4 linked regions of the Homo sapiens genome follow. The protein of the gene in region 4 interacts with the protein of the main gene of each other region in a biochemical or structural test. Each region holds a gene or a part of one and is shown on either strand. Other genes may lie near its edges.

What was found.
Region 1: the proteins of APBB1 (region 4) and DHX9 form a complex in vitro, tested with the Homo sapiens proteins (one study listed by BioGRID).
Region 2: the proteins of APBB1 (region 4) and EVL form a complex in vitro, tested with the Homo sapiens proteins (2 studies listed by BioGRID).
Region 3: the proteins of APBB1 (region 4) and YLPM1 form a complex in vitro, tested with the Homo sapiens proteins (one study listed by BioGRID).

Annotation. Positions count from the first base shown.
Region 1 is NC_000001.11:182,883,380-182,889,351, reverse strand, and holds the end of DHX9 (ATP-dependent RNA helicase A), read right to left. Parts: intron 5,833-5,972; coding exon 5,717-5,832; intron 4,740-5,716; coding exon 4,539-4,739; intron 2,270-4,538; coding exon 1,918-2,269; 3' UTR 1,370-1,917; downstream 1-1,369. UniProt on the Homo sapiens protein: Multifunctional ATP-dependent nucleic acid helicase that unwinds DNA and RNA in a 3' to 5' direction and that plays important roles in many processes, such as DNA replication, transcriptional activation, post-transcriptional RNA regulation, mRNA translation and RNA-mediated gene silencing.
Region 2 is NC_000014.9:100,130,586-100,139,421, reverse strand, and holds part of EVL (ena/VASP-like protein), read right to left. Parts: intron 8,786-8,836; exon of another isoform or gene 6,704-8,785; coding exon 6,643-6,703; intron 6,376-6,642; coding exon of another isoform or gene 6,263-6,375; intron 5,222-6,262; coding exon of another isoform or gene 5,134-5,221; exon of another isoform or gene 3,524-5,133; intron 3,518-3,523; coding exon 3,454-3,517; intron 1,845-3,453; coding exon 1,778-1,844; intron 1,683-1,777; coding exon 1,620-1,682; exon of another isoform or gene 525-1,619; intron 89-524; exon of another isoform or gene 58-88; intron 1-57. UniProt on the Homo sapiens protein: Ena/VASP proteins are actin-associated proteins involved in a range of processes dependent on cytoskeleton remodeling and cell polarity such as axon guidance and lamellipodial and filopodial dynamics in migrating cells.
Region 3 is NC_000014.9:74,793,271-74,802,106, reverse strand, and holds part of YLPM1 (YLP motif-containing protein 1), read right to left. Parts: intron 4,528-8,836; coding exon 2,410-4,527; intron 1-2,409. UniProt on the Homo sapiens protein: Plays a role in the reduction of telomerase activity during differentiation of embryonic stem cells by binding to the core promoter of TERT and controlling its down-regulation.
Region 4 is NC_000011.10:6,394,635-6,402,355, forward strand, and holds the end of APBB1 (amyloid beta precursor protein binding family B member 1), read right to left. Parts: intron 7,576-7,721; coding exon 7,448-7,575; intron 7,349-7,447; coding exon 7,343-7,348; intron 7,055-7,342; coding exon 6,940-7,054; intron 6,796-6,939; coding exon 6,711-6,795; intron 6,439-6,710; coding exon 6,355-6,438; intron 1,582-6,354; coding exon 1,466-1,581; intron 1,329-1,465; coding exon 1,152-1,328; intron 1,068-1,151; coding exon 900-1,067; 3' UTR 491-899; downstream 1-490. UniProt on the Homo sapiens protein: Transcription coregulator that can have both coactivator and corepressor functions. Adapter protein that forms a transcriptionally active complex with the gamma-secretase-derived amyloid precursor protein (APP) intracellular domain.

The sequences.
Region 1 (5,972 bases), on a different chromosome or scaffold from region 4:
AACAAATGAGACAAGTCCATGGCTATGTGGAAGCACTTTCTGGGTCATGGCAGAGGGAGAAAGTACCAAGCAGAGCACTGCGGTTAAGAGACAAACGAGTTTAGGGAGGACAGCTGGAATATGTGGGGCACAAGACCGGGGGAAGCTACACATGGAGCTCCTCAGGTCTTTAGCTGAACATGGTAACGTTAGAACTGTGCCTTAGTGCTTCTTTCAACCTTCAGAGAATGCACTTTGACAACTTTTGGCCATTTATCAATTTACATTTCTAATTGAATTTGTTGGAGGGATGAGTACCATTCAAATGAACCATTACTGATTTTATACCTTTTATGGGAGTTTTCACAACTTGCAAAGGGAGAGAAAGCTCATGATCAATCGATGGTGCTAGTTCAGTTTGGCTAGCTACAGCTGTACAGCAGAAATGAAGGTAGAGCCGGAGTGAGTGGCTAAGAAGGGAGTTTAGCCTCTACCCTGACGGCAGTTAAGAACCATTAGTTTAAGTCAGGAGAGGGGGTATGAAACTGGATTTGTTTGGGAATGTTTACTGTAGCTGTAGTGGAGATCATCTTGAGGCAGGCCTGTAGGCAGGATCAGTTAAGTTGCTGTGGCACTGTATGTCCAAACTAAGACTGAATAGAACAGAGGCAACTCAACTATAAAAGTATATTGAAAGATATTTTGAGCTGACTAGAGATGGTGGCTTAAGCAATTAAGCAGCTGAAACTCCAAAGAGCAGAGCAGAGAACATAGTACTGTCAGGACACAGGGTAGGTGGGGAGGGGAAGGTCAGTTTGGAAGGCACTGAGATTTTTTTCTGTGGGATATTTAAGCAGAGACGCATGTTCAGTGTGCAGTTGTTTACATGGCTCAGAAAGGAAATTTCGGTTGGAGACAGACTTGTGAGTCTGCAGATAGGTGCCATCAGCTTAACAATAATTGCTGAAGGTGATCTAAAACATGTATGCAGGATAAAGGACTTTGAAAAGGAAACCAAAACAAAAATATGCCCAAGATCATCCACATGGTTGAGAACAGAATTAAGACAAACCCAGTTCTGTGTAATCCAGTACCTTTGCCCTCTCCACTGTATCTTGCTCAAATGAGAAATGTGAAAAAATTCACTGGAAACTGTAATGTGCTATAAATGTATGAATATCTCTATTAAAACAAAGTAGCTTAACAAAAACCTTTTGCAACACAGTAAGGTAGGTAAATGTGTCACATCAGTGAAGCTTCATTTACCTTTTATTCAAGAGTTCTATGGATTGATTTTATTGCTTTTAATTGTCATCGTGGAAACTAACTTAGAAAAGAAAATGCTGGCCTTGGTCTTATTCAAAGACAGAATATGGGAGGAAGCCAAATGTTCAACCCTAGGTCAAAAGTTTTATTCAGGTTTATGTGGCTTGTGCACTTGCCAGTATTTACTTCAAAAGGTAACAATTCAATTCCAAGATGATTTATTCTATTACAAGTAGTATCACTTAGTATACTTTTGAAACAGGGTACAACTTCTCTGACATTTAAAATCAACAGATGTAGCTGGCATTGTAAAATTTTCTAACATACGAGGTCAACAAACAAACTACACGGCAAGTATTCGGTGTAATACTTTATTTTCTATTGTATTAAACGAAAGCCAGGAAAATACCAAGTTATTTAAAGGCAAATCTTTACTCCTTAAAGAAAAAATACAAACTGTGGTATTTTTAAGAGATCGTTATATTTTACATAATATAAACAAAATCACTAATGCATCTATATGCTTGGTTTCCTTAAACTACAATGAACCACAGAATGGGTGAAAATGCATTTACTTTTTGGTGGCAAATAAACATACTGGAAAAAACACGTAACACATAGCATGCCTTTTTTTCCTTACTGTCTACACACAGGAACTGACATAACCAAGTTTTAATAGCCGCCACCTCCTCTTCCCTGTCCAAAGTAGCCAGTTCCATAGGCCCCCCTACCACCTCCTCGCTGGAATCCCCCAGATCCTCTGTAGCCTCCACTAGGCCCTCTGTAGTCTCCTCCAGAGTTGCCTCTAAAGCCACCTCGGGAAACTCCTCTATAGCCTCCACCAACACCTGCACCATATCCTGCCCGAAAGGAGTTGGCGCTGCCACCATAGCCTCCGCTACCATAGCCTCCACTGCTATAGCCACCGCCATAGCCTCCACCACTGTAACTAGAACCTCCCCTTCTATATCCGCTTCCATTGTCGTATCGGGCCATCTTGGGAGGACGTGGACCATCTCCATACCTAGGAAAAGCACAAAACCATCACTTTAGCAAAGCATTCTTATTATTTCCCAACGACTTACCAAATGTACACATTTAGTTATATTTGAAAATTTAATAAAGGGAATGAAGCCAAATGCACAAATAGAAATTGAAATAAAATTGATCTGCTATTCTAAAACAGTCATCAATTGTATCCATCTGTTTTTCTGAAGTTCTGGTTCAATCTCAAAGGTTTTGAATTTTGGCAGTATGTCATTAGAACTTTAAGACAGTCCTCTTACTCAGTTCAATAACATAAGTGTTCCAAGAAGGCAAGCATTAGGAGAGGGTTCCTGGAGCTGCCAATAAACTATTTGGTCTTTATCACCAGATGTTTTCCTGCAATAATTCTGAAATATGATTTTGAAAAATGTCCTTGGTAATAATGCCTAAATCTGTTTCATGTGGCAAATAAGGAAAATAAAGCGAATAAAAAATTGCAGAAATCAAGATGGACTGTCAACAACTTCAATTAAACATATCCCCAATCTGCTTATTATTCCTGTGCAGCTTTTCTTCGAGAATAACACCACCAATTCAGCAGCTAAGTCAGAAATATGGCTGTGTGGCTGGGTGCAGTGGTTCAGGTTTGTAATCCCAGCACTTTGGGAGGCTGAGGTGGGTGGATCACCTGACGTCAGGAGTTAGAGACTAGCCTGGGCAACATGGCAAAACCCTGTTTCTACTAAAAATACAAAAATTAGCTGGGCGTGGCAGTGTGTGCCTGTAATCCCAGCTGCTCGGGGGGTTGAGGCAGGAGGATCACTTGAACCCAGAAGGCAGAGGTTGCAGTGAGCCAAGATGGCACCACTGCACTCCAGCCTGGACAACAGGGCAAAACTGACTCTCAAAATAAATAAATAAATAAATAAATAAATTTAAAAAAAAATAAAAATAAAAATAAATGACTGTAATCTGTCTTCCTTCTTTCATTGCACTATTCCATTTTAGTCCATCACCAATTCCTATTGATTCTACCACAAATCTGTCTAATCCAGTCACATCTCCCCATTGCAATTCTACTACTGTAATTTAAGCCACCACATATTCATACATCCTAAACTCTCTTGCATATATCCCTTTCTTTCTAGTTTCCGGACTGTTATCCTTCATAGAAACAGATTATATACACAGCGGCTCCTTGCTTACCAGCCCTCCTACCAAAAATAATCTCTCTTCTCCTAAACACCCATGAATACTTCATTTGTTATCTGCCTATGACGGTTATTGAATTATTCTATGCATTTAACCACCTAGGAGGGCCACAGAATAGCATAGTAAGAGCACTGTTTCAGGAGCCATGTTGCCTGGGTTTGAACCTGGTTCTATCAGTTATTAGCTGTATGACCTTGGGTCTTATCTGTGCCTGGTTTCCTTGTTTATATTAAAGAGGATGAGGATAACAATCTACCCATCTTACAGATAGATCAAATGCCAATACATCATTTTTGATGAGGAATTAGAGGTCATTTTTGGATAACTGGAAGAATTTTAGTACCTTAGTATATTATAGTATTACTAAAACACTTAAGGTTTTGGGGTGTGATTGTGGTATTGTGGCCATGTTCTTAAAAGACATGAAGTGTATTGATGTAAAATGTGGTAATGCCTGCTACTTCATCACAAATATTAAGCAAATACAAAATGCTGAAAATTAGTGAACCTAAATAAAGACTATATGGCTATACATTGTATCACTCTTCTTGCCTTTTTGGTAAGTATCAAGTATATGTAAATAAAAATTAGTGGGCAAAGAAAAAATTTTAAAACCTGAAGCAAATAAAAATTTTAAGAATTAAGATAAATTTCTCATTTCTTTAAGATATCCATGCTCTAGTTGTTTAAGATAAACAAAAACACATATACATTTGATACAGAAACAATTTAACATCTCATCAATATTTTTCTTTAGAGATGCCAAAACAGTACCATGGAAAAAGGGCTATCTGGGCTGTGTCACTTCCCTGTCATGTGACCCACTCTGAACTATGTATGTGCATTTGTAAGTTCCTTCTAACACTACCAACATGCACTGATGCAGCAGACCAACTACTAACAAAAAAGTAAATGACATTCTTTGTTCTGAGTATGTTAGAACTCAGAACATCAAACTCTCTATCTATATAGCTCTATCTATATCTAGAATTTTACTTAAGTAATAGGGCTTCTATCACTAACTTCAGGAATTCTAGGCCTACATAAGATCTCTCCCCTCTACTTGGTTCAGTAAGAAGTATATTGGTACTCACCGTGTACTGCCAATCATAAGGTTGATACCAGCAGCTGAGGGTCTAGAGATCTGACGGATCATGTTCAGCATACGTTCATTTACGGGGTCCAACTGGCTGATGATAGCAGGTTGTTTGGTTACTTCAACAACCAAAGCCTCCATGGCTGCCCGGAGACCAGTGATACAGGCAGCAGCTTCATGAGATATTTGCAGTTTAATCCTAAAGTGGCGAAATACATTAAAAATAAGAGAGGGAGTATATGTAGAAAAAGACCATTATCTCTCAACTTCACACATGGCACATTATAGAATAAATTTAACTTCTTAAGCATTAATATTAAAAAAAAAAACTACTTATAATGGCCCCAAACTTAGGCAAACACAGATATGAAGAGTAGTTATAATCAGCACTAGCTTCTTAAAATTCACTGCTAGCTATGAGCAGGAGTCTTAAGCCAAAAAGTCTATCAAGCCAAATAAAATATAATAAAAATATATGCAATATATAATAAACAAAAAACAAAGTCCAGCAATATGGATCATTCAGACTTTCTTTTTTTTTGAGACAGAGTCTTGCTCTGTTGCCCTCGCTGGAGTGCAGTGGCGTGATAGCTCATTGCAACCTCCAACTCCCAGGTTCAAGTGATTCTCCTGCCTCAGCCTCCAGAATAGCTGGGACTACAGGTGTGCGCTACCACACGGGGCTAATTTTTTTGGATTTTTCGTAGAGACAGGTTTCACCATGTTGTCCAGGCTGATCTTGAACTTCCTGAGCCCAAGTGATGTGCCGCACCCAGCCAGATCATCCAGACTTTAAAATAATGAATTTAAGAGACCCAGAATACTGGCATTTTCTAGGTTTTCAAGAATATGATGGCTGAGCCTACTGGCTGTCCATTAAGCTCTATTCCATTTTTGCCCAGTGCTTACCACTAGTTTTGAATCAATATACAGAGTATGTGAAAGGGTACTCAAGCTTCACTTAGATTCTGATTCCATAGTGGTGGTGTGCCTAGTGGTAGACATGGCTCAAATTCCTAATGCATTTGCTTCTACTGGTATCAATTTAAGATTAAGTATATAGTATATAATTAAGTTAGATATAATTAGTATATAATTAAGTTAGATTAGCAGCTGAATTCCATCATATTGTAATTCTAAGAATTCAGTTTGGAGTTCACATCTGAAAATCCATACCAGTCATCTACAAGCACAATCTGCCCATCAGATTGGACTTTCTTGGAGGCAAAGAGAAGCAACTGCAGGGGGGTGACTAAAGTCATGCCTTTAGCAGAGATGGCTCGAGTTCGAATCTGCAAATGGAGAAAGAGACAATACAAAATGGTTGACATTCCAACTTCCAAATACCGCTATATACTGTGCTTTGAAAATCAAAATTCATGTTCCTAATGATTGTAAAGACAATTTCAACTTTCAATGTAAACTTTTCTAG
Region 2 (8,836 bases), on a different chromosome or scaffold from region 4:
TGACAGCCACCCAGTGATAAACACAGCAGGCTTCCTAAGCAATGTGACGCACCAGAGGGGTGGTGGTACACGTTCCCCTTGAAGTCATCTGAAAATTAGAGAACAGATTTGCCTCAGAGCTGAAGAGAGACCCTATTCCAAGCATGAATGGCCTTGACAATGTTCCTGCCCAGTGAGCGACCCTTGGCCACTCACAACATGGCAGCCCGCCTTTGCTCCACCAGCAGGACGTGGCGGAGTCCGCTGGGAGCGCTGCAGGCTCCCCTTGCTGCCGTGTCTGCTCCAGGGCCCTCGTTTTGCCCACTCTGGTTGCCTTCCCCTTCCCAGCCTCCACCATGGCACCCTGTGCCTCAAGTTCCATGACTGGGCCCTGCGCATGAACACAATGCAAACTTCTAACTCCGCGCTCCCCCACACCCTCTTCCTCACCCTTCCCGTTCCCCTGCCCCATGGCCTGTCTGCTTCCAGGTGGAGGTGCGGGGGAGCTTGGCGGGTGGCTGCAGGCTCAGGGCCCTGGCACTTACCCTTCCTTCAGCTTGGGAGGCTGTCCCCATGATCTCCGCAGAGCAGACTCCTCCTCGTCCGGGTCAACGAAAATGCCAGCTCCCGACAGAGGCTTGCCCCACCCCACTCCGCAAAGCACCCTGTCCCTTCCACCATGTGGCCCTGCACCCTGTCCAGAGCACCCCTCAGGACCACAGTGGCCTTGTTCACACGGTGCTCTTTGCAGGCAGGGACTGTCCCCAGCACACGGCCTGGCTGACCACAAGCCTTGGACAAACCCCAGCTGACTGCTAAGACTTCCTCATCTCTGTCCACCTGCACTGCTCTGCTCTCACCACCTGTTCAGCTCTGCAAGGCCAGTTTCAATGCCTCCTGCTCTGTGATAAGGGTGGTTTCCCTTCAATTTGTGGTGGCGATGGAGACATTCTTGACGCAGGTTCTAGAGGCCTTCCAATTCAGGCCACATGTACCTCCAGATACTATGTGGCTGGCTGCCTCTGCCTTTTTGGGCAATCTCAGTTCCAAATATTCTATCATGTTGTCATGCCAGCTTTTGGCTTGGGAAATATGGTCAGTATGTCTGTGGGGAAACTGATTCTGTGTGCCGGCCGCAGAGGAAGGACTCTGGGCTGGAGGAAAGGGGTAGGGCTCAGCGCCAGTGCTAGGACTGGTTGAACTGTAGGGTGCAGCCCTGGCTAGTGACCACACCCCATGTCCAGCTGTTGCTCACAGCTGTCCCCACCACCACCCTGTGCAGCAGGGGTTAACAGACCTCACTTTGTGGGGGGAAAACAGAGGCTTGGAGAGGTCCCCTAACTTGCCCACTGTCACACGTAGTGAGTCCAGAGCTGGGACTCCATGTTGGCCCCCCCCTGCACTACCTCTGTGGACAGGTCACTGCCCTCCTTGCCCTTGGTCTCTCTCTCAGAGGGAAAAGACGGAGCAGCTGACTGACAGGACCCCGAGGTCCTGGGTCTGAAAGAACAGACCACCTTCGCAGAGCAAGTTGTTAAATGCCAGGACGTGAGACAGCGTGCAAGGGTGTTAGTCACGGGACGGGGGACAGAGGAGCCCCAAACCCTGGGGGACATGTGAGCAGGAGGGTTGTTCGGTACCTAGAGTGAGGCTGCGACTGAAGGGGGCTCTTAGCTTCGGGGCTCTTTGCCACAGACGGGGTTCTACGGCAATGGAATGAAACAGACATGTGAATCGGCGCCAGCGCCCGCCTCTGCCCCACCAGCCTCGCTGCTCAGGCCTTCCTGGGGCAGCTCACCTGGACAGAATCGAGGACACAGGCTTCTCCACCGAGTTGCTCCGCTCCCAGGGCTTCCGGCCAGCCTCTGTCAGTTCATTTCATGGATGAAGAACCTCACAGGTGAAGGGACTCAGTAGCCACCCCAATCCCCTAAACACCCCAACAGGAAGCCCTCACCCATGCCAAGGGTGCAGAGCCCCGTGGCAGGAAGGTCTGATTGAGTTAAGCCAAAACCTGGCACCTTGTTCTCAGTCCCCCATGGCCTAGGTCAGGTTGACCCTGACCTGTGATCTGGTTCTGAGCCCTTCACTGTGCCAGGTCTCTCTGGAATGTGAGCCTGCTGGTAAGGGACCCAGTGACTAGAGCCACAGGGCGAGCAAGCACGACCTCCCCGGACATCCCAGCACAGCCTTGCTCCCACGTGTGGTGTGGCGGCCAGGCCCCTCGGCCCGGCACCTGCTACTGAGGGGCTCCTTAGTCTGCCTCCCATGCTGCGCCTGGCTCTGTCCCATTCTGGCTGGCTTGTCTTTTTTAAGTGGTATTGGATTATATTTTGTTCTACTCCAAAAGATTTGTTGCATTAACTTGAATTCGTTGACTGTGCAGGACAAGCAGAGGCAGAAGACAAAATCTCTAGGGGGTAGTGGGGCAGCTGCCTGGCCCAGAGCTAAGCCTTGGCACCCTGCGGACCAACGGTGGGATTGAGGCAGTTTTCCTCAAAGCCACCTTCTGGGACAGGCGCTGGGCCTGCAGGCACTAGACCTGGGGCTACAGACATGTCCCAGGTGTGTGGCCTTGAGCAAACCACTTTGCACACAGATGGGAACCACGTAGCCCACTCACTGGGCTGTTGGAAGAAGCAAACAGGGCAGGGGTATTGATCACGTTCATCAGCCAGGAACCTATGCATCCTGGCAAATCAAGACACCAGGCAAAAATCTTAGGAGGAGAGGACATGGCGTGCAGTTTCACAGGGAGGCGACACCCAACCTGAGCATGCCCCAGAGACACACGCGAACAGCTGGCAAGAGCCTCCTCTGCCCAGCTAGGGCAGCCTGATGCCCCTGTCTCTCCTCGCTGTGCTCATGAGCACAGGCCTGGCACAGAGCAGGTGCTGCAAAGATGTTTGTCGAATGAACAACCAACCCTGGGGTCTTCCTCCCCTGCGAAGCCTCATCATACTCTCCTAACTACCTCCCATCTGCCACAGCTTAGACAGAGAGAAACCTGAGCCAGGGAAGGGGCTGCGTTTTGGGTGGAGCGAGATCTACTGCCATCTCTGTAATGTCGGTCATCAGCTGGCGTTTCACTGGGAGACATGAGTCCTGACACTGATACCTCTTAAGAGCACTGGCCCCAGCCTGCCTCAGGAGCCCTGGACACAAACTCCCACCCTGAATATGTGCCGTCAGGCAAGTGCCTTCTCTCGTGCGGGACTCAGGGTCCTGGTGGGAAGGTGACACGCAGGTCACCCTGGGGACCCATCACAGTGGCTCTGCTCTAGCACTTCCTGTGCTCCCACATGGGCTCCTGGGGGAGGCTCTGGGGGACCCATAAGAAATGGGCTTCCCTGTGGCCTGGCCCTCTGCTCAGGCATACTAAAGAGGCTGGATCAGAGGGTCCTGTCCGAAGGGTCCCCCCTCCCACTCTGAGACCTCATGCCTCACTGGGGTCAGCGGGGGGCGCCCTCTCACCTGAGGAGTTAGGTGGCTGGCTGGCTGCTCGGGTCCCCGGAGAGGGGGAGGTACTAGGATCTTCCTAAAATGGAGAAGAAGGGAGTCTGTTTAGGAAGGCCACCTGGGGCCAGGGCAGGACATCATTGGACACTTCATAAAACCTCAGTTTTCCAAATGTTCCCAATGAACACATATGACTTTTATAATTAGCAAAACATTAAATATTTAAAAGTGAAAACGCAAAATCTCAGTGGGGAGAGAATCGAGCCAGTGGACAAAGCTGGGGAAGGGGAAGGCTACAGGGAGCTACAGGCTCTCAGCAGGGTGATATAGAACTTCCTTCTGGCCCTCAACACCCGCAAGCCCTGAGCCCCCCTTGGGCCGGATGCCTCCCGTATGTCATCTCACTGACTTCTCATGAGCACCCCGTGGACTGGCCTGCTCCCCCTGTGCAGCACACACACCTGCCCGTGTAATAGGTCTGTGGCAGTGCTCGAACAGTGGACGTGTTCATCCAGCAGTGGGGACACCTAACACTCATCATGCATGGCATGTGCGTCAGGATGGTTTTTCAGCATCAGGAACATGCCACTGATTAAGTAATAAGAGTAATCCTTCCACTTGATGAAGCAGAATGCACAGCATTTGAGCTGTTGACAGGCGGCCACCCAACCTGATGTGTCATTCTGATCTGAAGCAAAGAACCTCTCCCTTGTCACCGTGGGCAGAGGTCTTTGCTTTGTCTCCTCTGCTCACTACATCCCCACACGAGAATCAGGAACGCCCTGCGTATCTGTGTGGTGAACGAGTAAGTCCCGGGAGGCTCTGGTCGAGAGGCAAAAGCAGGTGCCAGCCTGCAGGTGCTGGGATGAGGTTCTCAGGCCTCCTCATTTTAAAGACAGCTGAATAACAGATTATGTCAATCAACACACACATGTGGGGGCCACGATGAAAGCGATACAGGGTGACATCAGAGTCACTAAAAAATTATCATCTTTTCTTGTATGTTATTTTTTTAAAACCCTCCCTGCTTAAAAGGGAAGTTATGCTTTGACTCTAGGCTGGGAAAGAGGTGGCCGCAGCACTCCCAGGCCCTGGGCACAGAGACTTGCACCCCACCTCTGGCAGTCGCACAGTCTGTGAGGCGGCCATGCCTGGGTGCAGGTTTTCAGGTGGTGGAACTGGTCCTCGGAGCAGTAACTCCATTGGCCCAGGGCCAGCTCTGCCATGGCAGAGGGCCTGCCCAAGTCACCGGACTCCACATTTGGGGCTCTTTTCGTCTTTCAAATAAGCCTTCTTTCTTCTCTGTTAATGATAAACTTAGTGCATGTTCACTGCAGAGAATTGGGGAAATACCAGGAAGCATGAACAAGAAAACGAGTGCCGGCCATCAGCCTCTCTCCCTCCCACTGCACTTGTGTGGTGTGTGGATCTTCTGAAGGCCCTGCTCTCTTTAGACGCTAGTCCTGGGTATGAGAAGGGACCATGGCAAACAAGAACCAGCTGTAGCCAGGGGCCTGTGAAAAACAAGACAGAAAAGATGGGGGTCTGAGGAGGAGAGTGCTATCCTTGGGGTTGAAGGTTTCAAGAATGTTCCTCTTCCAGAAGCCCCTGGGCTTTGAAATCCATTCTTCTTAGAGCTCCAGGAGCGAGAGTTTTAGTTTTCAGGGGCTGGGACTGCAACATACTGGCACCTGACTAAGAAAGGCCAGCGATGTCTTCAGATCCCCAGGGCTGTGGCTGGAGCGAGGCCACAGTATTTTGATGTCTGTGATTATCCCGTGGCCTGCAATTTCAGAAATTCATGGCAAGTCAGTTGGCTAAACTCCACAGCATGTGCAAGGTATGGGAATGGTGGACGTGTGAGAAGCCCAGGCCTCGCCCTCCAAGGGCCTAAGATCTGGCAGGAGACAACGAGTCTCCACAAGCAGTCGTGCCTGTGCAGAGGGCCTCGGGAGAAGACCGGGGCTGGGATCAAGTAGTGAGGAGCTTTGTGAGGCCTGGGGGTCGGGAGGCTGTTTTTTTGTTGTTGTTGTTTGTTTTGTTTTTGAGACGGAGTCTCGTTCTTGTTGCCCAGGCTGGAGTGCAATGGTGCGATCTCTGCTCACTACAACCTCCGCCTCCCAGGTTCAAGCAATTCTCCTGCCTCAGCCTCCCGAGTAGCTGGGATTACAGGCATGCGCCACCATGCCCCGCTAATTTTGTATTTTTAGTAGAGATGACGTTTCACTATGTTGGCCAGGCTGGTCTCAAACTCCTGACCTCAGGTGATCCGTCTGCCTCGGCCTCCCAAAGTGCTGGGACTACAAGTGTGAAGTGTTGAGCCGGCCGGGAGGCTGTTTTTTAAGGTGTAAGGGTGATGCAGGGAAGTGCAGGCTGAATGGGAGTTGGCTGGTGGGGCAAAGGGACCCATATGTGCCCAGGACGGGGCTGAGAGGCGTGGATCAGCTGGGAGGGCTATAGCCTCAGGGTAACACCAGCATGACCCTGACTGATGGGAGGACAGGGCAGGAAGCCTGCTCTGGTCCCTGGCAGTTTTATTTCCTCTCTGATTCTGCACTGAGGTGGAACCTTCAAGGCATTTGTAGTTAAGGCTAAACTTAGCCCTGTCAGTAGGAGTCTTTTTATAGGAAAAGCTTAACATGGAGGAAAAGAGAATTAGCCGCCCTAACTGGAAGCAGATGTTGGGAGCTCTGGCAGCCAGGCTGGCTCTGGGCTGCCTGGTAAGGACAAGAGCCAGGGGTCCAGGGCTCCTTTGCCACAGCTCACCTGAAGCTCCTGCTGGAAGAGGAGTCTTTAGAAACAGAAATAATTTGAAAATAAAAACCTCTCTGGGCTTCTGGCAGACGTGCCCCTCTGCAGTGTACTCCTGGAGTCCCAGTCCCGCCGAGACCCTGGCTGGTCTGTGCTCCCCGGGGCTCCTGGGAAGGCGAGGTAGCCCTGCGGTGCAGCGGCCAGCGCCTCAGGCTGCAGCTCCAAGGGTGGAGCAGTGTCTGGTAGGGGGTGCTCAGTGAGGGCAGGCCTGCTGCTGGGGCCAGGGTGGCGCAGGGACAAGCACCGCAGAGACCCTCCGCCCCTCCTGTGAATCACCTGATGAAGCGCCCATCCCACGCATGTCCCAAAGGCCTCGCCTGAGACCAGAGAGCCTCCCTGGCGATGCGCTCATCTCAGTGGGGAGCCTGAGGGTGGGGCGGGCTGCTTGCTCACCATTTGGCTTTCATCTTCCTTCTTCTCGGCTGGCTTGTCTGACTGGGAGGCTGCTTTTCTCCTAGGCACAGAGAAGGGGAAGATACAGATCAGCTCCTCACGTTCTCTCACTGTCCCAGAACTCTTCTGCCTCCACCCTGCCAGACTCACCCCGGTCCTCAGATAAACCTGTGTGGGAAAACGATGGCGTGAAGGAGGCGGCTTGTCTAGGCCCCGTCTGGTGAGGAGCCAGGCCCAGGCAAATGTCCAGGCCCTCCGTGTGGTCATGGCCTGGGACACAAAACTGGTCTAGGCAGAGAGGGCGAGATGCCTCTATGTCTGTTTAGCTCTACTGGCAGCAGCTGTAGCATCTGAGGCGTGGAGGGGAGGCGGGCACGCTCTGTCCCCAGGACACTGAAGGCCTGGCCACACGGGACAGAGAGGCATCTCTCTGGGCTGCAGTCTGTCCCACAGGTCGGGACACTGGACACTTTCTTGTGTCACTCTAAGGCCCTTGTGTCTTGGAACTCAGTTAACCCAGCCACGCCCTCCCCAATCTAGAATGCCACTCAGAGCCTGGAAATGCTCAGAAGAGGAGCCCTGGAATAGGTCCACGTGACGCCCTTGAGTCGGTTCGTGCACCTCCCCAGTATGAATCCCCGTTTCATGTACTCTAAAACCTCACCCATATTTTTTGGCCTCAGTGGTATCTGCTGACCTCCCAGGTCTACAGAGGCAGGCAGACCCTCAGTGTTTCCCAGAGATACGCTTCTGTGGCTTTTCAACTTGAGATGAGCTGCCCATCAAGCATGGAGCTGGTCTGAGGTGTGATAATGGGCCGTGGCCAGGCTGTCACCTGTCTGTGATGGGCCTACCTGGCAGCCTCCTCAGCTACAGCAGGGGCCCCCTTCTTTAGCTCCCATCTCAGGACAGGTCTGCCCACCTCGTCCCTCAGCCCAGAAACCAGGGAATCATCCCTGACACCAGCTTCTTATAACTGTCAGCCTGGTCAGTTCTCTAAATCTGGGTACCTGCCTGTCTTTTTTGTCTTCACCTTCAACACCTTCCTGCATGCCCCTATCATCTCTTCCTGGACTGTCAGAGTCTCCTAACTGGCCTAGCCACGATCACTTACACCTCACCAGCTACCCCCCAGCAGCCAGTGTCCCATCTCCTAGAAACAGAACGCTGACCAAGCCACCTGCTCACGGGGAGTGTAGGCGGGATGAGTGTCTGTGAAAGTGCTGCTGAACAGGAGCTTTCTGTCCACGTTCATTTCCCTCCTGCCCTCCACTGTTGGGAGACTCAACTGCATGCCCTCAGAGGCGGGAGACAACCTACATGAAAAGAAACCTGGCAAGGGCACTTTCATCGTCGGCTCCACCCAGTAGCCATCACTGAGGTGGATTTCAGAGAGCACCTGATTGATCCCTGCTGAGCTATGCAAAGCATGTTTGTTCTTGGGAGGGCCTTGACTCTCCCACCGGCATCTGGCATCTCACTGGCTCCTGGCAATACTGGCCTTTTCCTGTTCTCAGACAGAAAGGTGCTTCCCCTCAGCTTGGTCTAGGACTTAGGGAAAGCATTCATATTTTCTTTTCCAAAACTATTTCTATTTCTCTGTGGCCCATCCTCGCCTCTGAGTGCTCTGAGGTGGAACCCGATGCCCTGCACCAGGAGGCTCCCTCTTCCAGCCTGACTTTTGGTCCATTTCCTCCACACCTAGCTCTCCAGGCACAGGGGGCGTCAGCCTTCCCAGCCTTACCTTAACTCTGCCCACTGTCCCTCTTACAGCACGGGACGTCCTCATCGTTCTGCGAGCCCTCCCGGCTCTCTCACCCACGGAGCCATTCGCCTTTGTGTGGCCACTGTAAGCCCCACACACCTGGACTTACTCTCACAGGAAACTGCTCAGAAGCCTGCCTCCTGTCTTGGCGATGTACAAACGCCCAGGCCCAGTAGAGGCTCCGGAGACGCCCGTGCTGCGGATCCACCTTGCTGCTCCCTGACACACGGGGAGCCTCCCCTCCCTGCCATCTGTGATGCAAGCAAAGAGCCCCTTGGCAGGAAACCCAGGCTGTGGCCCTGCCATGAAGCGCCACACCAGCTGCCTGCAGCTGTGGGCCTCTGTCATCTCGCATCATCCTCATGGAGCCACGGGAAGGTAATGAGAGGAACTAGGACTGCAGTGTGAAGACCCTGGGCACACAGAGTT
Region 3 (8,836 bases), on a different chromosome or scaffold from region 4:
AGCTGGGTCTACAGGCATGCACCACCGCGCCCGGCTAATTATTTGTATTTTTTTAGTAGAGACGGGGTTTCACTATATTGGCCAGGCTGGTCTCGAACTCCTGACCTCATGATCCGCCTGCCTCAGCTTCCCAAAGTGCTAGGATTACAGGCGTAAGCCACCACGCCCGGCCTATTTTTTTCAACTCTTTAGACCAGAGGTTGCAAAATGGTGGCCCATGGGCCAAATATGGCCTAAAAAGGTTTTCAAAATGTGGCTTTCACATCAGTTTTTAAAATTTGAAATTAGCTGTCATATTTACAAAGCAAAATATTTCATATATAAATTCAAATCTTAAAGAGATATGGTAACACCAGGCCTACATTCCCACATGCCAACAATCAGCTGAGTGCAGTAGAGGCTGCCCATGTTAGATGAAACAACCTGTCACAATCTTCACCGTACTCTACAGAGTTATACTTGGCCCACTTTCACTCATTTTTGTTATCTGATTCTTGGGGACATTTTAATTTATGGCCCCTGCTGTAGATGGTGAGAACAACTGTCAGTCTATACCTTTAAAAACAACATTTCATATTCCTGAAGATAATTATGTAATCCTTCGGTTTTTTCTTTAAACTGACGAAATTCCTTTTACTTTTTTTCACAATGCCTACCTTAAACATAGGTAAAATCCACTACAATTTCTTAAGACCTTTTACAATTTTCTCCTTACATTAAAGTGACCCAAATGAGGGTCCACAAATGAGGGACCACAAAGTAAGGGTCAAGTGTGTAAGATTATTTACTGCTCAGGTAAATCCCATCATCACATCCCTTATGATACTCCTTACGACTTTACACTGACACAACATAAACGACTTGTATTCGGCTATGACATTATCCATCACTCCCTATATATTGTTTAATTATGTTCATGTTGCCTAGAAAGCTTTAAAAAAGGATGAAGCAGCAGCAGCACCTTTTATCCAGCATTACCATGCAAAGCAATAACGAATTAAAAAGAAATTTAAAAAGGAAAAAAAAAGAAACCTTGGCAGCTTAACAACACCAATCAGCTTGGTATTCTCCATAAATAACACAGATTTTAGAGTTTTAGACAGATTGAGTTCAAAGGCCGGGTTTGCCACTTACTAGCCAAGGGAACTTAACCTCTTTGAACTTTAGTGTCATTTGTGAAGTGGGGATAATACTACCTTATCTTTGCAGGCCTTTGAGATAGACAGACTGACATAATATACACTCAATTATTAGCAAGTGCCCAGTTACACGGTAGGTGTTAAAATTAAAGGTGTCTATAACTTAAAAGTGAATAGTGTAGTAGCTAAATATTCTATAGCATGCTTTCCACATTTTCTTCATGAGTAATCTGGAAAAAATAAACCTCTTAGCTATAGACCATACAAACCTGCCGTATCTGGTCTTTCATCATTACCTTTTCTTCACCGTATTTTTCTTTCCTAGTTCTAAAGTTTAAGTTATAATTTATTGTTAAGATCCACAAATGTAAACCAGAATTGAAAAATGGAAGAAATACATTGGAATTTATCAAAACCTAATCATTAATTGACTTTCTCAAAAAAATTGCTTTAAAAAAGTTTTCAATCTGTCACTGACTTCTAAATTCCTATCCCAAGATACAGCTGGTTTAAGGATTAAATGAGTTTATTATACACAACACACTTAGTACAGTTCCTGGCCCGGAGTAAGCATGCAATAAATGTTAGCTTTTGTTATTGTTGTTACCACAAGAAAAGAGGAAAATTATGTAGATACCTATACACAGTTGATTGTAAGTCAAGAAATCCTATTTTCCATTTCACAAAGAAAACATTTGGTTATGTAGAAACAAATAACATCCTCAAGGAGAAATATCTGCTTTTAGTTATAATGAAAGATAAAACATCCCCAAAAGAAAGTATCAATAGTTAAGACAAATCTGAGGATGCTCCTAAGCAAACCATTCTTAGCTTCAACAAAGAAAAATACAGCACTTTCCAAAGTTTTATCAATGATTAGTGAATATAAAGTCTATCAGATCTAATACCAAAGAACAAACTGATTACTGGAAAAAATGAAGGTTACACATGAACCCTGTGAAATCCAGAGCACTGAAAAGTTGAAGTTTGACACTTGAAACATGCACAGGCATGGCATGCCAGCAACACTTCTACAAAGGCCAAGACAGCAATCAATTTTCACATCTTAGGGCATAAGTTTATCATTAACACAGTTCCTAAATACCCATTCTAACCCTAAAACAGCACTGAATGACCAGAAATATAAATTAAAAGTATGTGATAAGAACTTGAAGTAAAATGATTCCATTCAAATATATCATATCACTTTAAAAAGAGCAGTCTGAATGTGGTTTTTATTAAAAGAAAGGATCTGAAGGAGTCAACTTACCGAAGCATTTTCAGTTCTTGTGCAGCTTTCAAAATGATTTCATGCTGCCTCTGACTGAGAACCATTACCCCTCCAAGGCCTTGGTCAGAGTCTAAGCTTGCATCGGACCCCATCATTTCTGAGGAATGATGTGAGGAGGGCATATGTTCCGCCATGGGGGAATGTCTATCCACATCAGATGGGTACCATCTGTCTGACAACCGTTCTCTTTCCCAGTCCATTCTGTCAGGAACATAATCTCGCTTTTCCCGCCATGTATCTCCTCTTTCTGGATACTCTCGAATCCTCAACTCACCCCTATCACGGAAATCTCGATCATACCCATGCTCTCGATTTCTTTCTTCTCTCCATCTATCATCCCGATATCTATCCAAAGGTGGAAGAGGTGGGAGGGGCGGTAAAGGTGGAAGAGATGGAATATCCCGTTCACGAAACTGTGATTCTTGTTCATCCAGTGGTCTCCCATAATCTCTGTCCCACTCATTATCCAAACTTCTATCATACATATCCATAGGTCTTGAAATCCGATCCACATCCCTGTCCATGTCCCTTTCCATTTCCCTATTGTAGTCCTCATCCATATCCTGGTCTCTCTCCCAATCATCCCACCAAGGGCCTCGCCTATCTCCATCATGAGACCGAGATGGTGGTGCTGAGAACCTGTCCTCTCTGTTATAGAGCTCTAGTGTATCATCTTGATAGTCACGTTCACATTCTCTCCAGTATCTCTCTCTATCCCAGTCATCGAGTCTTTCTCGTTCCATTGGAGCATTTCTACCATCTAATGGAAACTCTTCATGCCCTCGCTCTTCTCCATGGTTCCATGGAGCCCTAGGAGGCTCATCCCGGTGATATGGATACATTTTTTCCCCACCATCTCCTGGTTCTGGTCTGAATGGACCTCTATCACGACCAAAATCTGATCTTCCCAGTCCCCTTTCTCGACTGCCAGGCCCTCGAGGTGGTCCTCTCTCCCTGCTCCCAGCTCTTCGGGGTGGTATTCTCTCTCTACTCCCAGCCCTTCGAAGAGGTCCCCTCTCCTGACTGCCAGCCCTCCGAGGTGGTCCCCTTTCTCGGCTGCCAGCTGCACCCCTGTCCTGGCTCCCTTGAAGACCACCTGGCACTTTCTCCCGACTGCTTCCAGGCCTCACCAACCCTCTGTCCCGGCTACCTTCTCCTCTGTTCATCTTCTCTCGACTATCTTCTCTTCTACCCATCATCTTATCCCGAAAGTCTTCTTGCTTGACCAATCCTGGGCCTCGACTGATTGCCTGGCCGCGACCTCTGTTTACTAGACCTTTATCCCGTGTGTCTTCCATTCTGCTTTGCCCAGGACCTCTGTAAGATGAGCTGTTGCCTCTATTGCCTTCTAATCTATTATCTCTATTATCTGGCCGAGGCAGGCCTTTATCTTGGTTGTTTTCTGAATGGGGTAGACCAATACCCACAGGTTTAAAATCATTATCTGCTGTTAATGATGATGTTGCTACTGCTGTTCCTCCCTCCATCCCCCCTGTTTTTGAAGGAAAAGTAGATTGAGCAGGTACAGGCTTATTCGCAAGGGGTACAGGCTGAGTAACAGCTTGGGCTTTGTCGATTTGAGTCTCCATACTTTGAACATTCTGGTCCCAATTAGAGGGCTCTACGGGCCCTTCCGAGACTTCACTTTTAGGTGGCTCTTGTTGAGAGTCGCTTAGATTCTCATTTGACTGAGCCGCCTTGACATCCTTTACATCTGCAGCAATGGAAAATGCAGCTGATTGCATTTTAAAATTCTTCTGCTGGTTACTACTGGTGTCTGCTAATGGTTCTTTGTTTCCTGAAAGAGGTTCTGCTTGTGACTTAGGTTGCTGCTGATGCTGCTGTCCAAAAGCTGGTTTGGGGCCTTTCCACTGTGGTCCACTCTGTCGAGGACTTAGGGATGTACTGGGGGTAATATAAAATTGAGATGCTGGCCCCCGGGGAATCATTCCCCACTTGCTTTTAGTGCCCTCTGCTGGGTGACCTTCATATCTGGGTCTTGGCCCATCGGGGCGATTTCCTTCAAAACGAGGCCCTTTGGGTCTCGGTCCTTCACACCTTGACCCTAAATCCTCAAATCTTCGAGGACCATCAAATCTACAAGTAAAACAAAAGATATTACTCAAGACAGTAAAGCAGAAAAAAAAAATTCTCCATGTAAGAATATTTAAGGCACTCTTGCCTTAGAATTTGTTTACAACAATGACTCTTTTCAGTCATTAAATTAATCCTGAGTCACCAATATCTTAGAACCAGTATGTTAAGGTGGCAGTGCTCAGAAGGTCTTAGGACAGGCTTTGGAAATCATGTCAGTATTATCTAACTTACTTCAACACATCTCCTGCCGCAAGTCACTGATATACTGAACGGTTAAAAAGCAATTACAGGCCTGGCGCAGTGGCTCACACTTGTAATCACAGCACTTTGGGAGGCAGAGATGGGCAGATCACCTGAGATCAAGAGTTCAAGACCAGCCTGGCCAACATGGTGAAACCCTATCTCTACTAAAAAAAAAAAAAAAAAAAAAATACAAAAATTTAGCCAGGTGTGGTGGCAGGTGCCTGCAAATCCCAGCTGCTTGGGAGGCTGAGGCAGGAGAATCACTTGAACCTGGGAGGCAGAGGTTGCAGTGAGCTGAGATCACGCTATTGCACTCTAGACTGGGTGACAAGAGTGAGACTCCGTCTCAAAAAAAAAAAAAAAAAAAAGCAATTATAAATACTGTGCCTTAGGAGACAGAAAAGGCTGCTCATTTTAAAGAGAAAAAAATTAACAAATTCCATAACTAACTCTGAGCACTTCTGGAATTAAATTGTAACTAAAAACTAAATATGAAAAGACTAACAAGAAAATATAGGATGATTATAAATATTGTTAGAGCTAGCACTAACATTTTGATTGACAAAAGTTAAAAAAAAAAAAAAAAGAAACAGTAGCCCTATCTTAAGAGTAGGTTCTGACATTTTAAAAAGTCTGCACAGTTATTTTTGCTATAAACCCACTTGCTCATCCAGTAAAAAGAAAGTACACATCCTTTATCTGTCAGGCATTACATTACATCCAAGAGATACAAGAATAAAATGTCATATGTGCCCTCAAAGAGTTTACAACAAAATATAAAGATAATCTAAGTGTAAATAAGTACCAAGAGATGTAATGTCTCAAGTCTATGTGTACACAATAAGGAAAACAGAATTGGAGAGGCTTATGTTGAGTTTTAAAAGACAACTTCTCTGAAATCAAGCTGACAGAATGAGTTGGAGATGAGGAAAGTATGTGGCAAGGGCACCTCAAGCTAAGGAAGCAAGAGGAAAGGCGGAGAAACGTGTATCAGCAGAGCATGTTTGGAAGTGCAAATAGTTTAGCATGGCTAATGCAAAGGGGAAACAGAGTCAAGAGAGCTGATAAAGAGGGAAATGTGGAAAAGCAGCACACTAAAAAATAAGGTAAAGAAGTAAGCGAGGATCACTCTCCAGAAGATTGTGTATGCCTCATGTGGCAGAGACTACTGGTGGTCTTCCAATACCCATTCCCCACTTATCTACAATAACAGGCCTCCTGTAGCTAGACACAAGGCCCCCCAGACAAGACTCTCTTTCTCAATATCTCTTGCAGCTAGAACTGGCAGCCAAGTTCTGGCCAAGGAGCTGAGAGTGAAAATGATTTGCACATCTTCTGGGTTGTCCCCTTAAAGGAAAGGGCACATCCTCCTCTTCTCCATTTCCTTTTTCATGCTGGTTCTGACATGGTGGTGAAATATCCAAGACCAGGTAAATCAGAAGGAACTGGATTCCTGAACCATCACCTAAGTCCTAAGAGAGAATAAACTTCTAACTTGTTAAAGCCATCTGACTTGGATCTCGATTATAACAGATAAATTAATTCAGCTGGTTAAGGAGTTTGGTGTTACCTTATAAGCACTTAGAGCCACTAAATATAGTCTGATTTTTAAAAGATTGCTTTAGCAGAAAAATAGTGGACAGAGACAAAAAGTTTAAAGATCATCTTTACAATTTGGGTAAGTGAAGGTGATGCCTAGTCTAAGGCAGTGACTGATATGAGAATGTAGAGGAGGGGATAAAAGTGAGAGATGTAAAATAAGGTAGAATTGATAGGATTTTGTCACCAGTAGAAATAAAATGATAGTTGTAAGGGAAGAATTTAAGATGATTCCAAGGTTTCTGGCTTAGGTGACTGAGTAGTAGACAGTGATGCCTTTCATGACTTTTAATGAGTGCTAGGAGGCTTTTTCTTTCATTTCTTTGGGAAATCAATGAAGACTAATAAATTCAGTGTTGGCAAAATATTTATTTCCTATCCCTGTGACTTTAGGCTTTGTTGTTCTAAAAGTCTAGTTTCAAAGAGACGAACACATCCACTAGGGGACACAACAAATGATTCCACTAACCTGAAGTTGAGACCCCAACTTTACTCTGAAGTTCCAAATCAAGAGGCAATGGAGAGGGTTACTGTATTCACTGGGGATAACTGACCCTAACTTTCAAGAGGAATTTGAGTGACTATTGCACAATACAGGTGAAGTGAAGTGTGTCTGAAATGCAAGAGATCCTCTAGGACATCTCTTAGTATTTCCCATGTCCTGAGATTCAAGTCCACGGAAAATTGCAAAGGGTTTTGTAGAACTGCAAACAGCAGAAGTAATTCAGAAAGAACTGCTAATAGCCCATATCTTTCAAGAATGAAAGCCTGGGTCACCCCATGAGGCAAGGAATCCGAACTGGCTGAAGTACTTACTTAGAGCAAAGGGAATATGGAATGAGTAGTGGAAGAACATATATACCAGCTATGACCACATGACCATTGCAGAAATATGGACTACAATAGTTACAAATATTTCTTCCTTAATTTGATATATTTGTGTTTAAATATGTGTGTGTGTGTGTGTGTGTGTATTAACCAAATATTTTTTGGTTCATTAGTTTTCTTCCTTATTATCTAACATGTGTTAATAAGAGTTAACCTTATATTTCAGTATTTAAGTTACAGAACATGAAAGAGGGAGTGTGAATCAGGTGGAGAAGGATGAACTAATATTATCTTAAAGACAAAAAAAAAAGACTTTGTGTGCTTTTCTGGGGAAAGAGAATGTTTTTGGTTGTCCAGCAATAAATGTCTCATGTTAGGTGTGAAAATCTCCCTGTGACCCAACCTAATCAGAAACATATGGGAAAGACTGCCAGGCACGGTGGCTCACGCCTGTAATCCCAGCACTTTGGGACGCGGAGGCGAGTGGATCACTTGAGGTCAGGAGTTAGAGACCAGCCTGGCCAACATGGTGAAACCCTGTCTCTACTAATAGAAAACTTAAGCTGGGCATGGTGGCGTGTGCCTATAATCCCAGCTACTCGGAAGGCAGAGGTAGGAGAATCACTTGAACCCAAGAGGTGGAGAATGCAGTGAGCCTGAGGTGGTGCCACTGCACTCCAGCCTGGGTGACAAAGTGAGACTTTGTCTCAAAAAAAAAAGAGAGAGAAAGGGAATTTTGGGAAATGGAGTTTAGCTCAGCCAAGTTGACCTTTTACAAACCCATTGCAAGGAACTCAAAAATACACAAACCCATAATAAACAGAGAGAGGAGGTAATCAGAAGATGAAAATCTTGTTTGTACATTCTGAAAGACAAAGAACAAATATGAGTGGTAACTTACAGAGCAGGAAGAAACCAGTTTAGAGTACTGATGGCAGAAAGGGATAAAATCAAAAGAAGGCTGGCTTGCCCAGAGAACCTCAGAGAAGGTCAGGATTCTCAGACACTAGGGGGTGCTAGGGAAGGAAAGGAGTAAAACTTGGGGCTAAAAATACGTAAATCTATATTCGGAACCATCAACCAGCCTTTCCTTAGGCTGAATGTCTCTTAAATCCTTGAATTTGAGAGTCCCCTAGCAGTAGTAACAGTTCCTTACCCTATTCACATAAAGCAGAAACCTGACAGGTAACAAGCCCCTCTCATATACACAGAGCTCCCAATCAGTTTGTCAGTGTCTTCCATGCTTAAACATAAATGCACAGCCAAGGATTGCTAGATATTTGAGGAACACGTCCAAAATGAAAGAAAAACTAAAGATAAATAAATAGGATCTGAATTTGGAGAAAACAGAATGCAAAAAGCAGAAAAGAACTTTCAACTCAAATTGTTATCCTCAGAGAGATTCTTAAAGAGACTGCATCTATAAATCAAGAACAATGTGCTATTTATAAAAAAGATCAACGCCAGAAGAACCACAGAAAAAAAAATTTCCAATTCTCAAAATAAAAGATGCAATAAAGGACTAGAAGTTAAAGTATCTCAGGAAGTACAACAAAATGTAAGATAAAAGGCACAAAGATAATCAATCCAACAGATCCAAAATCCTACTAATGAAGAGTTCCAGAAACAGAAAACGAGA
Region 4 (7,721 bases):
TCTTGATGTAGGAAAGGGTGAAAAAGCCCAAATGCTGCTGTGGTTCAACCAGGCAAGATCATCCGGTGAAAGAACCAGTCCCTGGGCCCCAAGGATGCCGGGGAAACAGGACCTTCTCCTTTCCTGGAGCTGGTTTAGCTGGATATGGGAGGGGGTTTGGCTGCCTGTGCCCAGGAGCTAGACTGCCTTGAGGCTGCTGTCCTTTCACAGCCATGGAGTAGAGGCCTAAGTTGACACTGCCCTGGGCAGACAAGACAGGAGCTGTCGCCCCAGGCCTGTGCTGCCCAGCCAGGAACCCTGTACTGCTGCTGCGACCTGATGCTGCCAGTCTGTTAAAATAAAGATAAGAGACTTGGACTCCAGACCCCTGTGTGACTGTCCCAATTTCTTCTTTCCAGGCAAGCAGGGCAAGGAGATCTTTGGAGCAAGATCATAACTGAGGCACAGGCTAATGGGTTGATGGTGTGGTACAGGCATAAGAAGGCACACAGCAGTGCAGACAGACTTTATTAGTGATATCAATACAGCAGAGGTGCCCATGGAGCAGGGGGAAGGGACCCATGCCTGGACCAGTCCCTTCCTCCTTCTGCCCCTGCTGGGTCCAGGAGGATGAGGCCTGGCCTGGACCAGTTCCTCCTGTTCCACCTGAAACACATGGGGATGGAGAACCAGGGCTGGCCTTGCTTCCTGCTCCTCTTGTTACCACTCCAGTGTTATCACTTCCTTGAAGGGATTAGATCTCTCCCTCCCCAGCTCCTAGGCAGGGAACCGTAGCTACTGGGGAGGGGCATATTTGGGAGGCCTGAGGCCTAGGAATAGCCTCTAGACCCCTCCCTGACCCACACCCTTTAGTTCCCTGGGGCCCAACACAAGCAGGTGGAGGGAAGGTGGGGGCTTCTTCATGGGGTATGGGCCCCCAGCCGTTTGGGCTTCAGGGAGCCCCACAGCGACTGAACACCCCTGCGGACAGTCCACCCTACACGCCGTGCCACAGACTCAGCAGGGGGTGCTGGGAGGCAGGAGGTGGAGGCCTGGGAACGGGCATCCAGACACTTCTGGTAGCGAAGCTGCGGAGGCAAGCAGGGCAGTCACTCCCCAGCCTACCTCCCATGGGGCCACGCCACCACCACACCACCCTACTAGTAGCTTACCATGCACGCAGCCTGCACAGCCTCTGAGAGGCTGGCAGCATTGGGCTCGCACCAGAACATGTGGCAGCAGAAGGAGGCTGGGCCGGCAGCCATGATGAATGCAAACGTGTGGACATCTCTGCCCACGGCCAGGAAGGAGAGGAAACGCACCCGACACTCTCCCAGCACTGCCTCTGTCTGCATGGAGGGAACTCAGTTAAAAAGGAACACCAACCCCACACTGTGTTCCACATCCATCTTAGCAGCTCTTCCCCTCACCCCCAGTCTCCCCTCTATGGCAAGGCGCAGCCACGACTTCTACCCCAGCTCTTTACCTGCTGGTGCAAGATGGTGAGGGTAGCAGGGGCCACACTGACATGACTTGGGGTCCATTGTTCACGGCTGCTGGAGGACAGGACTGACTCGAGGGCCCCATTAATCACATCTACCCCTAGAACATATGGACACAAGATACCACTGAGGGTAGACAGAGGATACCCCAGCTCTACCCTGGACCTCTAGTTCCACCCAATCAAACCCAGGGCCTTTGCCCCATCCCCACTTTGCCAGCCTACATTTTGGACAACGCTGTCCAAGTATCCCTTCCCTGGGGCTCTCCTCCCCTGGCTTCAGTAACTGGACATTTTCCTACTTTTTAAAATCTTGGATCCTAGGCTCGTTATTTTCACCGGCTCTGCCTATTCCTCCACACTTCTGAACTGACTGACCTCTCAAAGTTCTGATTTCCCCAAATCATGCTCTCTCAGCGCTCATCACACTCAGACATCACATTGCTTCACACCACAATAACTCCCAAATCAGACCCTACAGGCCAGTCCTCTCCCAAGACCCAATTATTTTTTAAGATATCTATCTGAGGAGTGATTACTCTGTATCACATTGTGCTAAGTCATTACAGTGTATTACCTCATTTGTGCCCACACAACAACATCACAATAGATTACTTTATTTCCATTTTACAAATAAGGAAACGGAAGAGATAGGTAATATGCCTTAGGTCACATCGAGGAATGGGGACCTGAGCTCAGGCAGTCTGATTCCAGAGCCTGGGTTCTTAGCCATGCCTTTCTCCTACCTCTTCTCTATATTACTAGTTTTCAGAACTAGAAGGGCTTTCAAGATCTTAGTTCTACTCAAGAATGTCTATAATGTGCTCAAGAGCCAAGGAACCCAAGGTTCCTGACTTTCAGATCAATCAACTTTCCCTTATAACACATGGCCTCCTCCACCTCAAACTGCTGTTAAACATTTCCCCTCATGGATCCCACTTTTGCTTGCACTCAGCAGAGCACCAAGGCAGGAGCACATGTTGTGGCAAAGGCATCAGTTCTAGTCCCCACACTCATACGCTGGCTGTGTGATCTACTGTCTCTGCACAATGCCAGTGCAAAAGGCACATGCCTCTGTGGTCCACTCCCAGGCCCTCTGCCCCTTTTAGTGGCTCTCAGCTCCCACTAGGAGCAGACCACGTGGACTCTTTTGGGCAGAGGACAAATGTCTTCCTTGCATGTCTTCTCCCATCTTGGCCTTGCTCATCTGACTTCTAGCTGGATCAAGGCCAAACTGCTCCCAAAAGCATACAAGTCTTCCAAAAACTGGCCTCACCAGAGCTGTCAAGCTTCATATTTTACTGCTCCCTGAGCTTCAGATGATTTGTGTAGCATTATTATTAACAACTAATCTTGGCAAATGGCCTGTAAAGCAGATGGGGAATACAAAGCAAGAGAAGAGAATGCCCTTGAGAGACACAGACTGCAACTGAGGGAAAAGCCTCTGTCTTGAGTGCCCTTTCCCTGCTGGACTGAGAAACTTCAGACTGTCATCCTTCAGGGCTCCAACTAGGTGCTGTCTAGGAAGCCATGCCTGCTGCAGGGCAGGGAGAGGACAACTCTGAGACAACTCTTACCATAACGTCTTGTAACTGCTGGAAAACTTTTTTCCACACTGGGCCGTGGCCATCTCAAGAACAGAAATGGAATTTAATTCATCCCTCTGTCCCCAATTCTAACACAGGGCTTATCTGCTGAAGAAATTCCAGATGCATGAGCAAGTCACTCTCAAGGCAACAAGGGCAAATGCACCCGAACTGGTAAAACCAAGTGTCACAGAAGTGGATGGGCCAGGTCAGATTGCAGAGTGCTTCAAAAGCCAGGCAGAGGGGTGTGATGTTTATGACATTTAGGCCAGGGCAATTGGAAATCTCAAAGTTCAGGTGTGTGAAAGGGACATCATAGTCAAACTGCTGAATAGATGGGGCTGTGGGAGATGGAGCCTGGCCTCAGAGTCTTGGGAAGTTTGGCAGGGAAGCAGTGAAAGCAGTGGACCAAGGTATGGAAAAAGGCTGTCAGATTTGATAACTCAGGACTAAAACCTACACTGTGACCTTGACCTCCAGCCCCACATGCAATCCCCCTAATCCTGCTGTGCTTTTCTCTTCTTTTTTTTTTGTATCAGTTGTTGCCTTCTAACATACTCCATGGTTTACTCATTTTATTGTCTGTCTCTCCTTGCTAGAATGTCAGCTAAATAAAAGCAGGGATCTTTGTCAGTTTTGTTGATTAATGCATGCCAAGAAGCTAGAATAGTGCCTGACATGTATCAGGCATTCATTACCACTTGTTAAATAAATGAATAATTAATGAATGAATATTGCAGCTTCTGGATGGGCTAATGTTTAAAAACGAGCATAAGATAAAGCAGGAAGTAAGTTTAGAGACCACTTGTCCAAGCGGAGCAGTCAAGGGTCACAGGCAGTTGATCTGGCATAGGGAGGACCAGAGTCAAGTGGTAGATGGAAAGAAGCACATATGGGAATGGGGGTAACAAATGGAAGAGCCAACAAGGGTTTAGAAGTTGAGGACGAGAAGGAGGAAAGCAAAGGCGTAAGGGTCAGCATGCTTTTCTCACCTCCAGCTCCAAGTCTTTGGCAGTGCCATCGAATCCAAATGAAATACCCACTCCACTCTGCAAATCCAAACCTTCTTTCAAAACCTCAGTTCAATCCCCACCTTTTCTAAGAAGGGTCCCCTCTTTCAATGTAAGATTTTGGACGTGAAAGTCAGCACGGTATAAGGGAAAGTGCAGAGAATTAAAGATGACCGGGGTTTGACTCCCAGGTCTAGCTTTCCTGGCCATGTAATCTGAAGCAAGTCTCATTTATTCATTAATTCATTTTTTATTTCATTCATCAAACATTTGTTGAGTTCTTCCTGTGTGTCTTTTGACATGATACCCTACCACTTCTTTTTCAAGTAGCCTCTTTTCTTCTTCCTGCCTCTCTCCAGTTGTCACTATCCTTGGCAGTTTCATCCTCTACACATCCATTGAATGTTGGAGGGCCTCAAGGCTATGACTAGCTTCATTTCCCTTCTCACTTCAGGATGCCCACTTTCCAGGGCCAAGCTACTCTACATCCATGGCTTTGATTACCTCTACAACCCAATAATGCCAAAACTCCTATCTCCAGCCCAGACCTCTCCTCTCAGCTCCAGATCTGTGAATCTAACTGCCAACCTGACTTTGCCTCTCAGATTCCCCAAAGGCATCTCAAACTCAGCATGTCCAAAAGTGAGCTCACAATCTCTACGCTCAAATTGGCCTCTTCAAGCATCTGCCACCTTGAAAGAAATAATCCACTATCCAGAAGGTCCAACAGCCAGGAACTTAGGAGTCATCCTTGTCCCTCACCCACATCGAACCAATCACTGAGGCCTGTTGACTATACCCGTCTAAACAGCTCTTGAATCCACGCACTCTTCTTCAGCTCCATTGTTGCCCAAGATACTCTCATTACTGGCCAGGACTACAGCAAGAGCCTCCTAACTGAGCTGCTCACATCCACCTCCACCCACTTAACAGTCCCCTCCATGAAATAGCCAAAGTGAGCTTTCAAAATTCAAATCTGATTAAGGCAAGTGCACTCTCGGAGACTTCAATAACTCCTTGCTGCCCTTAGGATGAAGAAAAAATCATTAACATAGCCCCTGAGGTCCCTGACCTGGCAGCCTGACCACTGCCCAGCTGTCGGCCTCATCTTGCATTGGCCTTCTTTCAGTACCTTGGAAATGCCAAAGTGCCTCCCACTGTAGACCCTGATCTTCCCCCATCCCACCCCCACCTCCATTCCACTTGACCGCATTCACTTCTACTTATTTTTTGGATTTCAGTTCAAATGTCACTTTCACAGGGAAGTCTTTTACAACCTCAGACTAGATGAAATTCCTTTGTTATATCTTGCTACTTTCTCTCAACGAATAACTCACACATTTATTTGTGTGATTATTTTATTAATTCCTGGTTTTTTTCTACCATAACCTTCTATAACCTCTAGGAAAATGGGACTGTGGCCACTGTTCTCCCTGTGCCTAGTCCAGGGCCTGCCACATGGTAAGCTTCAAAGGTATTTGTTAAGTGAATAAACAAATAAATAGCAGACACTAGGAAAGCACTGAAATATAAGAGTTAACCAGATCAGGCCAGGCACAGTGGCTCACGCCTGTAATCCCGGCACTCTCAGAGGCCGAGGCAGGTGGATCACTTGAGGTCAGGAGTTCAAGACCAGCCCTGGCCAACACAGTGAAACCCCGTCTCCACTAAACATACAAAAATTAACCAGGCGTGGTGGCGGGAGCCTGTAATCCCAGCTATTCAGGAGGCTAAGGCAGGAGAATTGCTTGAACCCAGGAGGCGGAGGTTGCAGTGAGCTAAGATCACGCCACCGCACTCCAGCCTGGCGGACAGAGCGAGACTTGTCTTTAAAAAAAAAAAAAAAAAAATTCTTTGCAACAATGAAGTATGTGACAATTATGCTCACTGTTTCCTTCTCCAGATGCTCCCAGCCCACAGCTGGTGCTGTAACACTAAACCCAGCTACAGGCTGCTGTCTGGTGTCCTCCAGTCATCTAACATCAGCCTCCCAATCCCACCAAAGCTTTTCCATGGGATGAAGGAGTGGGGTCTCCCTTTGTGCCTGGTTCAGCACCACTCACGTGGCTGATGCTCAGCGAAGGCGTGCTGACTGCTGCTATAGGCAGGACAGGAAATAGAGCTAGGACAGAAGTATGGGGAGGTGGGATGCATTTTAAAGGGTAGGGAGACACCAAGCATGAGGAAGGTCTGGTAGAAGAAGTATTGGAAGGCAGAGGGTAGGGGCAGAGTTTTAGGATCAAGGTAGCAGCCCCTGGGTATAGAAGGACACACATACCAACAGGTTTAGCAACAGGTACATTCCCCAGGTAATAGACTTGGAACTTCTGGACCAACTCATTCTTAGGCGCTGGGAATTCCACTATGGGAAAGAAGAGAAGGTTGATCATGGTGGCAGACCTTGCTCACCCGCAGCCCCACCAGCAGGGCATAAGCTGGACACTTGCCCAGCCGAGGCCCTACTTTCATCTCGTCCCCTGCCTCCCTTTAACCGGAGTCCCTCCACGTATTGGAGTATTCAGTCTTCATGTGTTCATTTTTCTATCAGCGCTGTCCAGGAGCTCATGCCTTTCCTTGGGTCACCCACCTTTGCCAACAAAGCTGAGCTGGACCTGGAGGGGTTTTGACACTGACCTTGGAAAGGGACATCCACAAGTTTAGAGTGGTCCAGGGAGAGTCCATTTACCAAGCAGCGGGCATTACGCCGTTCGGCCATGATCTGAGGAAGGAAGGGAGGCGAGGAGCCAGGGAGAATCTATTAGAGCCTCATTGCCCTGGGGCCCCCCTACAGCACTCAGTGACCCCACCCACACCCTTGTAGAGCAAAGGTGGCAACTAGTCCAGGGAGTGGAGGGGGCCGTGCCTTAGAGCAGATCTCATGCAGGCTGGTGGCGATGTTCTTGGCAGGTGCCTCACAGCGAAACACGTGGCACTTGAGCATCTGGGTCAGCTTATCACGAGCTACGTAGGCAAAGTCCCTGTTGGGGAAGGGGCACCTCAGTGTCTCCCAGTACCATCCAGTGCTGAGCCTGGTCCCCACCCCACCCACGTCCTCCCTGCCCATCACAGCTCCTCCAGGGCTTCTGCCCACAGCTGGTCCCCCATAGGTGCTGCCTTCTTGGGGGGGAGGGGTAGACAGGCAAGCATGCTGAGGTGGAGGGTAATGGTGGAGCATAGCGGGTGGGAAGGGGCAGGGCAGAAGAGGGGAGCTTGGGTGCTTCCAGGCATCTGGTCCAGGTGTAGGAGGGGGAAAATAGGCATAGTACCTCTCTCTGGGTCCAGCAGCACAAGAGAGGCAAATAACAGAGTTAGAGAGGAGGACTCTGATGCTGGATGAACTCCCACCCTCGAATCCCAAGCCCTATTCCCACCTTCCACTGTCCCGCCCGACGCCCCACACGCGGATGCTGATGATGGGTTGGGCGTGCAGCAGTGCCTGGCTCTGTGGCTCCACTAGCTTTAGTGTCTCATCCTCCAGCTGCAGTAGCAGATCCTTTCCCTGCAGGACCAGAAGCAGGCACTCAGTGGGACTCCAGCCAGGATGGTGGCTGATCTCTGACCCCTGCAGCTCAGGGGATGTTAGCCACAGCTCTGGGGCCCCTGCTTTGGTGTCAGACCGCCCGCCCTGCAGGCCTCACTCTAGTG